3 separate regions of the Homo sapiens genome follow, and regions 2 and 3 are each linked to region 1. The links come from fine-mapping of genetic effects on gene expression. A gene starts in region 1. Each other region holds a variant in brackets. All regions are shown on one strand. Distances are between the middles of the regions.

The links. PIP is the estimated chance that this variant, and not a neighbour inherited with it, causes the effect. A credible set is the group of variants that fine-mapping cannot tell apart.
Region 2: its variant is the best candidate, but not a certain one, in a credible set for the expression of CEP295 in lymphoblastoid cells (GTEx, PIP 0.74).
Region 3: its variant is the best candidate, but not a certain one, in a credible set for the expression of CEP295 in whole blood (TOPMed, PIP 0.54).

The regions. Positions count from the first base shown.
Region 1 is chr11:93,659,291-93,664,636 of GRCh38, forward strand. It overlaps CEP295 (centrosomal protein 295), which reads left to right and starts at 2,392. Exons shown (of 30, transcript NM_033395.2): 1 at 2,392-2,484. RefSeq lists a silencer at 2,156-2,225 and an enhancer at 2,386-2,515.
Region 2 is chr11:93,758,156-93,763,501 of GRCh38, forward strand. C11orf54 (chromosome 11 open reading frame 54) reads left to right here. Exons shown (of 9, transcript NM_001286069.2): 8 at 1,587-1,703; 9 at 3,360-5,346. The coding sequence ends at 3,533. Among named protein-coding and RNA genes, the nearest start is that of C11orf54, 19 kb to the left of the region's middle. The variant A/G (reference allele first, on the strand shown) is at 2,567.
Region 3 is chr11:93,798,842-93,803,841 of GRCh38, forward strand. It overlaps MED17 (mediator complex subunit 17), which reads left to right. Exons shown (of 12, transcript NM_004268.5): 9 at 2,994-3,131. Among named protein-coding and RNA genes, the nearest start is that of MED17, 17 kb to the left of the region's middle. The variant A/G (reference allele first, on the strand shown) is at 2,875.

The DNA of each region.
Region 1 (5,346 bases):
GTAATGCTAAGCCAGATGCTCTGACTCTAAGCCCACTTGGGCTTTGATTCCTCACTGCCTTCTATTAAAAACAGAACAAGTCTCGATTCAAAATCTCCAAGTGTAGAATTTCTGCCAAGGATGCAGGTTGAGGAAGTGAAGCATGTAATTTGGTCATTTATTCAGCTTTGTTCATTTATGCCAGGCAACTGAACAAAGTGCACTCCTGGTTCTCAAGAAACTTAGAGTGTAATCAATAGAGAGCCCTCTAAACAGCTCATTTCAATAAGAACTCCTAAGTGCCATGGGGCAGCATGTGCAGGAACCCATGTCCAGGCACTAAACCTAGCCCAAGGGATGAAATAATATGCACATGTTTTATCGGGTATGGAAGAGTATCTCCGTGCCTGTATGGAGGATGCTGAAAAAATGTTTAAAATGAATACAAATATTCTTCAAGATAAATGTGACAGGAAATGGGGAGAGAGGCTGAGAAGAACCCTAATATTTGGGAAGGAAACGTGAATTCTAGTCCTGGTTCACCCTTGACTGAAATGTGCCCTTGGCCAAGTTGCTGAATCTCTCTGTAACTCAGTATCCTGATCTGTAAATCTGAGGTGGAATCACACTATTTCTTCCTGTACCTTCCTTCCTCCTACTCCATCCCTTTAAGTTTTGGTGTTCCTCGGAGTTTGGTTCTTTGCTCATTGCTCTTCTCACTCTGCAAATTCTCCCTAAGTGATCTCATCCATTCCGCTAGCGTTTGTTATTACTCATGTAACAAGGAAATCCCTTTATGCTTAGCCTAGTTCTTTCTGTGGGCTATCTACCGATGTATTCATCTGCTTACAGTACATCACTGGATGTTCTACAGGCACATGAAGTTCAATATACACAGAGCTTGGCTCATCACCCTACCCACTTAACTGCCATTTCTGATTTCTCCCTTTACAATCAAGAATCAACACTGCTACCCAAGCTAGTGGCCTATGAAATCAACTTCACTTTCCCTTTTCTCTCAATCTCACATGCAATTGTTTGTCAAGTACTGCTAATTTTGTGTCCTAAGTTTCTGAAATGCATCCCTTTGTCTAGATATCTCATAAACAGCTCAAATTCAAAATATTCAAAGCTTAACTTATTACTTCTCCCTCCTGGTTCTCTTCATGTGTGTTCCAGGAGGATGTTATCACTATCTACCCAGGTGCTAGGTATCTGGGACTTGGGCATCACCCTTGTTTTCTCCTCTTGTGCCTCCCATAACCAGGTAACCACCAATTCCTGATGTTTGGCTTCCTATTCAATCTACTCACCTCTCTCCATTCTCATTGCTATTATCTTTCACTTTCTGTAGTAGTATACGGCCTTCTGTCTTCACTCTCTCTGACCTTTTCCCCACTGTGCAGCCAGATCTGATCGTGTCAGCAACTTCCCATCCCCACCCCCCATTTTTAATCCTTTGATTCCTGATGTTTAACCCCCATGACCCAGACTGCAAAATCTAGTATAGGCATCATAATCCATCCAGAGTAACATAATGTACTCGGCACATAACAGATACTCAATAGGTATTAACCTGTGCTCACCGCCTGATTATTGGTTATTTACAGCAGATAAATCCGTGAGGTGCTCTCCGTGCGCTGTACCTCTGGAGGCACAGGGTAACATACGGCTCATTGTTGTTATGAGCTGGAGGCCTTAAATGAAAGCTATAAGACGTTAACTGCGCATAATAGTACCAATGAATTCCGTAGTCAGTACAGAAAAGGATGCATATCCCAAGATATCTTCATGATGGGGCCTTAAAACAAAAGTCACCCTCATGGCTCTGCACTTTTTTTTTTTTTTTTTAGACAGGCTTTGGCTCTGTCGCCCAGGCTGGAGTGCAGTACTGGCGGGATCTCGGCTCACTGCAACCTCCACCTCCTGGGTTCAAGCGATTCTCCTGCCTCAGCCTCCCGAGTAGCTGGGATTACAGGCGCCCACCACCACGCACGGCTAATTTTTGCTGTTGTCGTATTTTTTGTAAAGATGAGGTTTCACCATGTTTTTAAAAGGACTTGGTCTTGAACTCATAACCAAAAATACATAACCTCGAACTCTTGGGCTCAAGTGATCCTCCCGCCTTGGCCTCCCAAAGTGCTGGGATTACAGGCGCGAGCCACCGAGCGCGGCCCATACGGGAAAACGTCAAAGCCTGACAGGTGTGACAAATAATGGGCCCCTAGGCAGGCTGGGGCTGGCGCGTGCCTGTGCGCGTGCGCGGGGCGCGGGGTTTTTAACACCGCGCAGCCTTCCCGGCGGCCCCCGAGGAAGGCGGGACAGGGCCTATTCCCGCGGTTTGGTCCGGCCATTGGCGGGCGGTTTGAATGACGGAAGTGACGGCGGCTCGGCGATGGCTCTCCCGCAGGCGCAGAAACGGCTGCTGGGCAGCTGATGGGCAGGAGCTTACCAGGCTGGCTTGCTCTGAGCTGCGGTTACTGTGTCCAGGCCCCGGGTTCTCAGGTGAGTCAGGGATGCACTGGCTTCCCAGTCGCCCCGTAGGAGCATGACTCCCCGAGGCCCAAGAGCTGGGATTGTATTCCGGAGGAATGGGATCCCAGGAAGGCGCCTTGTTGCGAACGCAGGTACGGCTCGCGTTTCTCAGGCTCCGCAGGCCGTGGGCCCTGCCCGCGGTCGGGCTGGCGGCTGTAAGGAGTGTCCGGACCAGACCCGGTAACTCAGTGCGAGAGGCTTTGCGCGCTCTCCTGGGGTCGGGTCGCGCGAGCTTCCCACGCAGCCTCCCCTGTCGCGGAGCTTCCGTGTCGGGGGAGGGGCGCTTCCCCCAGATCACCCGCGGACATGGCCTGCCACCTGGTAGCTGTTAAAAGAGCCTTGCCTGGATCGTTTCATGCAAAGAGCACGCTCTCTTTTGGTGTCTGCCACCTTAATCTCACAGTTATTCAATCCTGTCACAAACTCAACTTTTAAAACAATGGTGAACTTTTGAGTCCTTAATACTTAGAGTGTATTTGAAGACTTCACGCTAAGTCACATAGACGTCAGAACAAACCTTTTGGGGTAGATATTATTATTCCCTTTATACAGTTTAAGAAAACGAAACCAAAGTGACTTCAGTGACTTGGCCAGTATCTTCCTGCTAATAAGTGGCAGTGTTGGGTCTTGAACCCAGATCTTCCAAGTTTAGTGTTAATTTTGTGATTACTATGTACCAGGAGCCATTTAATCCTCAGGACGAAATCTTGCAAGATAAGTAGTATAATCTTCAATATTGGATAGTAATAAAATGTAGAATTTAAAAATCCATATTACTAAGAATAAATAATTAATAAACAAGTAAATGGGGCAGCAGGGAAAACTTCCTTACAGCAGGATTCCGATTGATAATTGTAGAAGGAATAATGGAAATAGAAAATACTATTTGGTAAACACCACAGTAGTTGTTTCAGACAACAGTCATCAATGGATACTAACGTCAATGGGCAAAAGTATGATGAAAAGCATATTTCTGTAGCCTCTACTCTGTCTTCATGAGATATTTATAAAGGAAAAGTAGTAACTACAGAGGAGAAACCTGGTGGACATCATCTTAACCAAGTGACCAAAATTCAGCATCATTTACCTCTTGATAACAATGCACTGAAAAGGTGCCTAATCAATTCTGTGGTGTTCTTGCCAAAAATACATAACCTCAGTTTAATCACATAAGATTAGACAAATCTAAATGGAGGGACATTCAACAAAGTACTTGGCCAGTATTTTCAAAAATGACAGGGTCTTGAAAAGACAGACTGAGAAACTGTCCCAGATTAAGGGGGACATGACAACTTTGACATGAGAATGTAACTCACATATCTTAATCTCCTGCATTCTGAAATCTCCATTTGCACTGAGGCCATGCTTCCCATGGGCTGCTCCTAGCCACTGACAGTGGCAGGCCTGTTCCTGAGAATCTCCCCACGGGTTCTTGCTGAACATTTCTTATACTGCATGGCTGTCTAAGAGGGGTCTACCCATTGTTACTTCCCTCCATTCAGTGTTAGACTTACACTGAAGTCTGAGGCGCTTGTAACTTTTATCAGCTCCCTCCCATTTTCCCTCACACACGCATTTCTCCTAATAAAATATTTGCAGGTTTACTCCCATCTTAGCGTCTGCTTTTTAGATGACACACAGTTACACAGCAACAAATGCAATGTGTTATATCCTTGGATTGGCTTCTGGTCCAGAAAATAGACATTAGTGTGATAATTGACAAAAATTGAATACTGCCTGTAGATTAGTAAAAAATATTGTGTCAGTGTTAATATTCAGATTTTGATCATTGTACCATGGTTATGTACAAGACGTTGACATTTGGAGAAGCTGGGGAAAGGGCAAATGGGAATTCTAAGCCTGAAATTTCCAAATAAAAAGTTTAAAAAATTTAAAAATTATACACAAGAAGAAACAGTTATTCTATCGCATTTTAGGAGCTTAAAAATAATAAATGTTTATATGTTTTTCAATAATCCTCTGAGATGAAGTAATGGATACCTAAAATTTGAAATATTAGGATTTTTTTCCTCTTAAAGTATAAGAATAAAACACAAATCTAGGTATACCATTTGAGGAATTTTTACATATGTATACACTTGTCTAAACCATCATACAGATCAAAATATATAAATTTTCAGTACCCCAGCAAGCTTCTTTGTGCCATCTCCGAGTCAGTAACTTCCAGTAAGGTAACTTTATTTTTACCTCTCATGGATTAGTTCTGCTTGTTCTTGAACTTTATATAAATCAATTTTGTTGTACTTTTTTGTGTCTGGCTTTTTAAAAATTCAGCAATATTATGTCTATGAGATTCATCAGGAATTAGTCTTAATTATTTAAATATGAGGGAATTTCTTAGACCTTCAGACAAAATAATAAAGATACATTGTGAAGATTAATCTTGTTCTTTTTTCTTCTTTGTTAAATTTTCTGTTTTTTAAATTCTCACTCTCAAAAAACAACAGCTTAAATAAAATTTTCGCCACTCCACATATTTTTGTGTGTTGGAAAGTTAGGAGCCATTTGGAATAAGGAAACCAGATTCTTCCCTTGGCTCCGCCACTAGATGTTGTCACTCAGGGAAAGTCCTTTAACCCAAGAGGCCTTGTTTCTTCATGTATAGCATGAAAAATATAATCAGTACTTTAGTTACCATTACCAAAGCCGTGTGAATATTAGATGAGTAGGATGCATTAAAAGATTTTTTTAATGCCAGCAGTTAGTCCTTTTTGGTGTTAGAGTCTTATTGAAGGTTGTGATGATTGTGTATAGCTCTGTAGCACTTCACATAAATTAACTCATTGAGTCATTCATTCAGTCAACACACTT
Region 2 (5,346 bases), 99 kb after region 1:
GAGCGGCTGCAGCAGGGAGGCACGGCTGAGGCTACACACTCTATGGAGCGGGTGGGAGCTGAAGACAGGTGGGAGTCCTGCCCCTTCCGAGTTGGCGCTGGAGCTCCGTTGGTGCCGCTGCAATCGCCCAAGCCATGGCTGTAGTCCCTGGCATCCCTGTGCTCTCCCAGTGGGAACAGGCGAGAGCCCCAACTGCCCAGGCGCAGCTGCAGCAGCTCAAACCCGCGGCTGCAGACCTGGGTCTCCCGCTCCACGGAGCAGGCAGGAGCCCTGCCTTCTCCACACAGCTGCAGCTGCCCAAACCGTGGCTGCGGACCCAGGCATTCCTGCATTCTTGGGGGTCTGGGAAGGCCCCCACTGCTCTTACAGGCTTGGAAATGCCTGCTCCCACTGCCTGGCTTCTCCCTGCTGTCGGCGCCTGCTCCGATCCAGGAGCAAAGTCAGGCAGAGCCCGGTCGCTGTCGCAGCCCAGCCAGGTGTGCACACGCTCAGGGCACTGCTGACACACCAGCCCCCTGCCGTCCCGGCCCCTTCTGGATTTGGGGCGCTGACACGAGCGTAGAAGGGAAGCTGAGCGGCGGCTGAGAGCAGCTCCCCACTGGCCTTCAGGCACCCCTTGGCACCTACAGCCTGGATTCCGTGATCGGCAGCAGGAGGCAGACAGGTTCCGGGGCAGAAGGGGGCGGGTTTCCGGTGAGGCCCCACTTTCGGGCCAGGGAAGGCCTGAAGGCTGGGGGCCCAGCTGCCAATCCCACACACCAGAGTGGAAACTTGTGGTGCTTTTTCCAGGCCCACTGTGATCATCCCACTGCACTCCAGCCTGGGTGACAGAGCCAGACCCTGTCAGGAAACAACAGATGCTGGAGAGGTTGTGGAAAAATAGGAATGCTTTTACACTGTTGGTGGGAGTGTAAATTAGTTCAACCATTGTGGAAGTCAGTGTGGTGATTCCTCAAGGATCTAGAACTGGAAATACCATTTGACCCGGCAATCCCATTACTGGGCATATACCCAAAGGATTATAAATCATTCTGTGATAAAGATACACGCACACATATGTTTATTGCAGCACTATTCACAATAGCAAAGACTTGGAACCAACTCAAATGACTGGATTAAGAAAATGTGGTACATATACACCATGGAATACTATGCAGCCATAAAAAAGGATGAATTTATGTCCTTTTCAGGGACATGGATGAAGCTGGAAACCATCATTCTCAGCAAACTATCACAAGATCAGAAAACCAAACACCCCATGTTCTCACTCATAAGTGGGTTGTTGAACAATGGGAACACATGGACACAGGGAGGGGAACATCACACACCGGGGCCTTTCGGGGAGTGGGGGACTAGGGGAGGGATAGCATTAGGAGAAATACCTAATGTAGGTGACAGGTTGATGGGTGCAGCAAACCACCAGGGTACGTGTATACCTATATAACAAAACTGCATGTTCTACACATGTAACCCAGAACTTCAAGTATAATTAAACAATAATAATAAATAAGTAAAATATATTTTTAAAATTTTTAATTCTTAGTAATATTCAGTATGTTTACCTATGTAATTATCTTTTGTTGTAGCCTGCAGAATTTTCTTCCTGCCCCTTGAACTCTGATGAAGAAGTGAATAAATGGTTGCATTTTTATGAAATGAAAGCTCCTTTGGTTTGTCTACCAGTTTTTGTCTCCAGAGACCCAGTAAGTCTGTGTCTGTTTTTTATATTATACTACAATGATAATGCTTGATTTTTAGGATAATCTTTAAGAACTAGGCACTTTTGTGTTTGTTGTTGTTGTTGTTTTGAGACAGAGTTTCACTCTTGTTGCCCAGGCTAGAGTGCAATGGCAGGATCTCAGCTTACTGCAACCTCCGCCTCCTGGGTTCAAGCGATTCTCCTGCCTCAGCCTCCCGGGTAGCTGGGATTATAGGCATCTGCCACCATGCCTGGCTAATTTTTGTATATTTAGTAGACGGGGTTTCACCACGTTGGTCAGGCTGGTCTCAAACCACTGACCTCAGGTGATCCACCCACCTCTGCCTCCCAAAGTGTTGGGATTACAAGCATGAGCCACCATGCCCGGCCATGTGTTGTTGTTATTTAAGAATGAGGGTAGCCTCTAGAATTATTTTGGAAGATAAGGGAGCTCTTCACCATCCTATGAGTTAGGCAGAGCAGATTTTACCTTTGAGAAAATGAAGGCACAAGCATTTTAAATAACACCCAAAATTATTTTATTAAATAGCAGGTGTAGTTGGGCATGGTCACATGCCCCAGTATTCTTAGCTACTGAGGAGGCTGACTTGAACCCAGAAGTTTGAGACCAGCCTGGGTAACAGTATAATCCCCATCTCAAAAAAAACAATTAGTAGAGTCACAACTAGGATTCAGGTCTCCTGTCATCTTGTTTGGTGTTCATTATATTATAATACTATACGCTAGAAAAAATATTACAGACCAATTCAAAGCAAATACCTACTAAAATATTGGTCATATCTTCTCTTTTTTTTATTTTTTGTGACAGAGTCTCGCTCTGTTGCCCAGGCTGGAGTGCAGTGATGC[A/G]ATCTCGGCTCACTGCAACCTCCGCCTCTTGGGTTCATGTGGTTCTCCTGCCTCACCCTCCTGAGTAGCTGGGATTACCGGTACTCACCACCACACCCGGCTAATTTTTGTATTTTCAGTAGAGACAGGGTTTCGCCATGTTGACCAGGCTGGTCTCGAGCTCCTGACCTCAAGTGATCCGCCCGCCTCAGCCTCCCAAAGTGGTGGGATTACAGGCATGAGCTACTCCGCCTACCCTGGTCATATCTTGATCCAGTGATTACATGCCTAGGATATTATACTTAAATATATGCATAATTGTGTAAAATTACTAGTTAAAAGGTTATTATTACAGTATTGTTGTAGTAGCAAAAGAATTAGAAATAATGCAAGTGTCAGTTGAGAAGTTACATACGCAATAGAATACCATGCAGGTATAAAAGAATGAGGAAGCTCTTTTATGATTTCATATACAAAGATCTCAAAACTATATTGTTACATGAAAAAAAGTTACATGCAGAAAAGTGTGTACAAAATACTACATTTGAGTAAAAATAAAAGTAAGTATTTATGGAAGGATATACAAGAAAATGCTTACACTGGTTACCTGCTAGGAAGGGGAGTGAGTGGTGAGGGCAAGAGAGAAGAAGATACATTTTACTGAATACATCGTTTTGCCCCCTTTGAATTTAGAACATGTGAATGTATTACCTATTTAAAAAATAAAAACTATTGCAACGTAAAAAGTTATCCCTCCCCCTTAAACTCTAATCAATAATTTGAGTACTAACATATTGTTTGTCTGTTATCTTAGGGGTTTGATTTGCGACTGGAGCACACTCATTTTTTTAGTCGTCATGGAGAAGGTGGACACTACCATTATGACACTACTCCAGATATAGTGGAATATCTTGGATACTTCTTACCTGCAGAGTTTCTCTATCGCATTGATCAACCAAAAGAGACGCATTCAATTGGGCGAGATTAAATCAGCTGATACTTATTTAGAAAAAGAAATAATTAAGGTTAATTAATTGATTGACTTATTAATTAATACTGATATAAAACCAATAGAAATGATCCCACAGGCCAGGCACAATGGCTCATGCCTATAATCCCAGCACTTTGGGAGGCTGAGGCAGGAAGCACACTGGAGCCCAGGAGTTTGAGACCAGCTTGGGCAACATAGCAAGACCCTGTCTATTTTTTTAAAAAAGTAAAAAATAGAAATTATCTCACTACTTAAATCCCATTTTTTTCACTTCATATGAAAGAACATATTGATAGTATATTCTATATTATTTCATAGATCTGTCTGAAAGAGATTGGGAACAAAAATATCTAATTGAGATATTCTTTAATTTTTTACATAGCAGCTTTATTTTTTTTATTCTGTAGTATCAGCGAAATCAGTCATGTTTATACCTTGAATATAAATATCAGGAATCATGCAATTATTTCTACTATGTATTTAGTAGTATCTTATATTTGTATAACATTATTACATTTTGCAAATTAGTATCACAACTGCTAAGTAGATGTTTCTGAGTATTAGAAAAATCAGTGTTATTACCTGCAGGATATTAAAAAACATTTGAAAAAGAGAAAAAGAAAAATCAGTGTTTAGAAATGTTGATAGTTATTGAATCTTTGAATTGAATTTTAAAAATCCATTCTAGTAATCAGAGTATACTTTTTTTATAGAACAAGGTGGCAGGTGGGGAGCCCTTTACCCTTCTGGTGAAGTTAAACCATAGAAGTTTACAATTTGCCTTTCACAAACATTAGCAGTCCGGGCATGGTGGCTGAAGCCTGTGATCCCAGCATGTTGGGAGGCCGAGTGGGAGGATTGCCTGAGCCTAGGAGTTTAAACCAGCCTGGGCACCATGGTGAGACCCCATCTCTATTATTTAAAATGTTTCTTAAATAAAAAAAACACAAACATTAGCAACTAGTTGGCTAGCCATAATTCCTCCCTTGTTTCGATTGCCAGTTAGAAGCAATTTTTATTTCACTGGTTATTTGCAAGAGAAGGGGTAAAAAAACAGCATCAGAGTGCAACACTGAAGTGAGCTTACTTTAATTTGTAAGTGAAGCTGTTGCTGAACATGACCACTATCGTTGCTGAAATATAAAATTATACTCACTGATTGTAATGGTTGAAATTTTCCTGAATAATCATTAGCCAAAGATCAACTCTCTAATGGTGCTAATGGCAATCTAGCTAATGTGCAAATTTAGGAAGTCTTCAGTACTAAGTACATAATTTTCAAATAATATTTTTTAATTGTCTACTTTGGATGTTAGCTATGTCTTGTGAGTATAAATTCCAATTTTAAGCACTATTTTGATGCAAAAAAATGAATAAAAAATTTAATTTATGATATGTTTGTAATATCTTACCTCCAGACAAAATAATATTAATAGTCTATCATTTAACAAATATGTATTGAACACCTACCCTTCTCTCTGGAGTGTACACTTCATGTGGGCAAGGGCCTTGTTCACGACTGTAGCACTAGTGCCTTTAACTGCTAGCAAAGTAGCCACTCGGATGATTATACCAAACACTTTACTAAAGCTGGGGATCTGTCTAGTGGGGAAGACAAACAATAAATATATAATATGTCAGGTGGTATTAAATGCTATGAAAAGAAAGGAGTAGATGGACTGTAAAGGAGGATGCTATTTTTTTGTGGCCATCCCGCACTGAGACAGGATGCATTCCACACTCAAAATTTGGTTCACATGTCCAGACTGATAGCCAAGTTCAGTGGCTCACGCCTGTAATCCTAGTACTT
Region 3 (5,000 bases), 140 kb after region 1:
AAAGCTGATAATTTGAGTAGATCGTTAGTCTTGCAAATTTCTGATTGACCATAAATTTAAATATTCCCCAAATAAATGATCAGCATAAAAACAGCTATTTTTATAACCATTATAAATTTCAGAGTAGTAAGTGTAGCCTTGGAAGCAGCAAAGCTTTAAAACTTTTACTTCTTCCTGGTGTACAAAAAGCTTAGTGAAGAAAAAAAGACCCTGTCTGGGCATGGTGGCTCACCCCTGTAGTCCCTACACTTTAGGAGGCCAAGATGGGAAGCTTGCTTGAGCCCAGGAGTTTGAGACCAGCCTGGGCAACATAGTGAGACCTTGTCTCTACAAGAAATTTTTTTTTTTTTTTTTTTTTGAGACGAAGTCTCACTGTGTCACCCAGGCTGGAGTGCAGTGGTGCAGCTCACTGCAAGCTCTGCCTCTCGGGTTCAAGCGATCATCCCGCCTCAGCCTCCCAAGTATTTGGGATTACAAGTGTGCGCCACCATGCCTGGCTCATTTTTGTATTTTTAGTAGAGTTGGGGTTTCACCATGTTGGCCAGGCTGGTCCCGAACTCCTGACCTCAAGTGATCCACCCACCTTGGCCTCCCAAAGTGCTGGGATTACAGGCGTGGGCCACCGTGCCTGGCCAGGAAGCCTTTTTAAAAAAAGTAGCTGGGCTTGGTGTGGTGGCTCATGCCTGTAAACTCAGCACTCAGGGAGGCTGGGCAGATCCCTCAAGTCCAGGAGTTTGAGACCTGCCTGGGCAACATGGCCCATCTCTACAAAAAAATAAAAAAAATTAGCCAGATGTGGTGGTGTGCACCTGTAGTCCCAGCTACTTGGGAGGCTGAGGCTGGAGGATTGCATGAGCCTGGGATGTTGAGGCTGCAGTGAGCTGTGATCACACCCCGCTACACTCCAGTTGGGATGACAGAGTGAAACCATGTCTTAAAAAAGACAAAAAGACTGATGTGTATGATAACATGCACAGTGAGATCTCTTGACATGCTAATATATTTTTATGTGTATGTGTCAGAGTGTGTGTGTGTGTCTTTAAAGAAAAATCGGAGTTTATAAAATTTTATATCCTTCTGAGTTCATACCTCAGGGGTGACACCAAAACAAACAAATTTTTTACCTTGCATTCATTTAATATTGTATTGTAAATTTTTTCATCTATTTTAATAGCTGTATAATATCCTATAATGTAAATACTTCATGATTTCTTTTCCCAATTTTCCATTGCTAGATAATTTTATTTCCAGTTTAATGGTTCTCGTAATGCTCACACACATACTTACCTTCTATAGGAATTATGAAGCACTGTCAGGGAAACACATCAAGGAAAAAGGAAAATAAATTTCAGAATGTATTGTAAGAAGCCGGTACTGCAGCAGCAGACCAAACCCTAAGTCTATTAATGTAAAAGCCCCTTGTCCCCACTGGCTCTTCTCATTTCTTCCCATTGTCTTTTAAAATTAAATTTATTTTTATTATTATTTTTTTAATTTTGAGGTGAGGCGTGGCATGGTGGCTCATGCCTGTAATCCTAGCACTTTGAGAGGCCAAGGAGGGCAGATCACTTGAGGTCAGGAGTTCTACACCAGCCTGGCCAACATGGCGAAACCTCGTTTCTACTAAAAATAGAAAAATTAGCCAGGCGTGGTGGCACACGCCTGTAGTCCCAGCTACTCGGGAGGCTGAGGCAGGAGAATCACTTGAACCTGGAAGGTGGAGGTTGCAGTGAGCTGAGATTGCACCACTGCACTCCATCCTGGGTGATAGAGTGAGACTTTGTCTCAAAAAAAAAAAAAAAAAAAATTTGAGACAGCATCTTACTCTGGCTTAGACTGGAGTGCAGTGCAGTGGTGGAGTCATAGCTCACTGTAACCTGGAACTGCTGGGTTCAAGTGATCTTCCTGCCTTAGTCTTTTGAGTAGCAGGGACTACTCGTGCACGCCACTGTGCCCAGCTTATTTTTTTTTTATTTATAGAGACTGGTTGTCGATATGTTGCTCAGGTTTGTTTTGAACTCCTGGTATCAAGCGATCGTCCCTCCTTGTCCTCCCAAAGTGTTTTGATTACAGGTGTGAGCCACTTCCAGGCCTTTCTTTCTCTTTCCAGTAAAGTGCTAAAAATCAGATAATTAGAAACTGAGGGTTTGGTTAATTTAAATGATTTATGCTTTGGTTCTAAGTGTTGGCTGTTGATTAGTGTGTATAAGATTACTGGCTTTGGAATTGGATTCCCAGGTTTTTGGCTCTGGATTTAGACTCCCAGGTTTTGTATCCCAGTTTATAGCTATGTGACCTTGGGCAAATTGCTTAACATTGCTAAAGTTTTTTCTGTTTAAAAAATGGAAATAATAGTGCCTACCTAATAAGGTTAAGATTAAATGATATGTTAGTAAGATTAAATGATATAATTCATGAAAGCTCTTGTTATAATGCATGCTGTATAATGAACACTTGATAAATCTTATTTCTCATTGGTATTGATAGTTTTCTTTTTTTGGAGTATAAGGATTTGATTGTGCAAAAAATCTCTAGCTTCTCTTGAATATGATTATAATTTCATTACAGTAATGGGTCTAGATGTGGGTGTGTCCCAAGTCATTTGTTACCAGGGATCAAGTACTGACATTTATGAATGATTTATATTAGGTTTATACCGTAGAATATCGAATATCCTTCTCACTCATTTCCTGATAAGCTTTTCTGAGTGGAAGAAAATGAATAGAGTTAAAGGGAATAAACCCATCATGAATCATGATAATCAGGGGTGTGTGATGAGAGTGTATTGTAATGTCAAGCTGAGAACCTACACATTCAAGCAGTATGAAAGGGTTCTTAGAGCTACCTCTGCCTTTATTTAAAGTCTGCCTACAC[A/G]TAGTGGTAGTTTAAAAAAGTAGTTAGTTTTAAAATTTTCATAAAATTTTCGAATCATTTATATTCCTATCATTTTGTATGGTGACTTAAAAAGTTTTTTAACTTCTTGTATTTAAAAGAGCTGCTGCAACCATTGACAGCTTAGCAAGCCGAATTGAGGATCCTCAGATACAGGCTCATTGGTCAAATATCAATGATGTTTATGAATCTAGTGTGAAAGTTTTAATCACATCACAAGGCTATGAACAAATATGCAAGTAAGTGGCCAAAATAAAAGTTTTGTATTTAATATGTTAATTTGCTATTGATGTTTGCTGAGTAATTATATTAAGCATTTGGTTTTTATTTGCTAGGGTGGCATAATATTTCTGTAAATTATATAAGCTGTAGAGTGTTTTTTTTTTTAATAGGTGGAGTCTCACTCTTTTACCCAGGTTGGAGTGCAGTGATGATCATATCTGACTACAGCCTTGAGCTCCGGGGTTCAAGGAATTCTTTTGCCTCAACCTCCTGAGTAGCTGGGACTATAGGCATGTGCCCCCATGCCCAGCTAATTAAAAAAATTTTTTTTAAGAAACATGTCTATGTTGCCCATGCTGGTCTTGAACTCCTGGACTCCAGCAATCCTGCTGTCTTGGCCTCCCAAAGTGCTGGGATTACAGGCATGAGCCACCACTCCCGGCCCTTGTTTTTTTGTTTTTTTGATGGCAATTAGTTCTTAGGAGAAAATTCATAAAGTCTGTTTTTAAACATTGTAAGAATGAGAGGTAACAATGTCTAAAAACTAGTCTTTATTAAGTAAATGTCACATATTTGAGCTGGGGTAAACAATGAACCCCGGCACTGAGCAGAAGGCTGCCTTACCTTTTGAGATTCCAGGTCTGCTTCAGTTCTTGCCTAATGGTTATGGCAGGTCTAGTATATTTGAAGTGAATAGGGCCATTTGTATTCTAGCCTATACTCTCCATGTTATGCCTAAAATAACCCAAGTTTTATAGTTCTCATGACCTGGTGTTGATCCTGGGTCTAATCAAGTTCATGATTATGCCCTAAAAACTGGGTTGATAACTGTGTGTCTGTGAAGGAGGTAAGATGGTTTTTGTCCCCAGGCTTCATAGGAATGCAGTCTACTTGATTTACATTCACAAATCACAAGTTAATGCAATTGGCCAGTAGCCTTTAAGGACTTTTTGGCCTACCTTTTGAGCCTTTTTGAAATTTAACACCTGACATTTGTCAGGGTCTGTGACTACATTTTATTTTTAAAGTGTTAGTTGCTTTATTTCCTTTTTGTCTCAGTTTGTGTTTTTGAGATGGCGTCTCACAATGCTGTTGTCCAGGCTGATCTCAAACTCTTGGGCTCAAGCAGTCCTCCTGCTTCACCCTCCTGTGTAGCTGGGACTACAGGTGTGCACTACGATACCCTTAGTTGCTTTATTTCAGCAGACGTAACTAGCCACAGTAAAGCAAAGCATACTGTGAAACACAAAATAACGACCCTTAGGAGTAGGGGCAGAAAAATACATTTATAATGCTATTGTTTTCTTTCTTTTTGATTTTTCCTATGTACAGTCATTTCCAATATAATACTATTTTTAATGCAGAGGTTTTAATTCACTTAAAAAATGAAAACATAGTAGATAAGTGTGAGAGCAGATGCAGAGTATGAAAGAATACACAATGGACAGGAAACTAGTCCTGAAACTTCCAGAGAAAGATGATGGAATAAAGTAGAGTCATAGAGTTTTCTTCCCCTTATCTAAAGAAAGAATAAAATAATTGGGGTGATTTGAGGGTGGATTGGGAGAAAGTAGGTGTTAAACATAGATGAAACAAGTTTGGATTGCATTTTTAACTTAAGAATGGGTGATGGGATTATAGGCTTTCATTATATTATACTTCTGTTGGTGTTTATTATTTATTTGCCAGTAAGCCTTTTGCCCTCCTACTGTTTGTGTTTAAAATTTTCCATAGTAAAAAGAGAGACTGAGTGCAATGGAAAAGAAAAGAGAAAATTATCATCATTGAATTGTTTAGACTTAGAACTAAGACTAAAACTGGGATTATGGTTACAGGTCCCAATCTAAACGTTGTAAACTTCCACAAAGAAAGATTAGTGATGATGT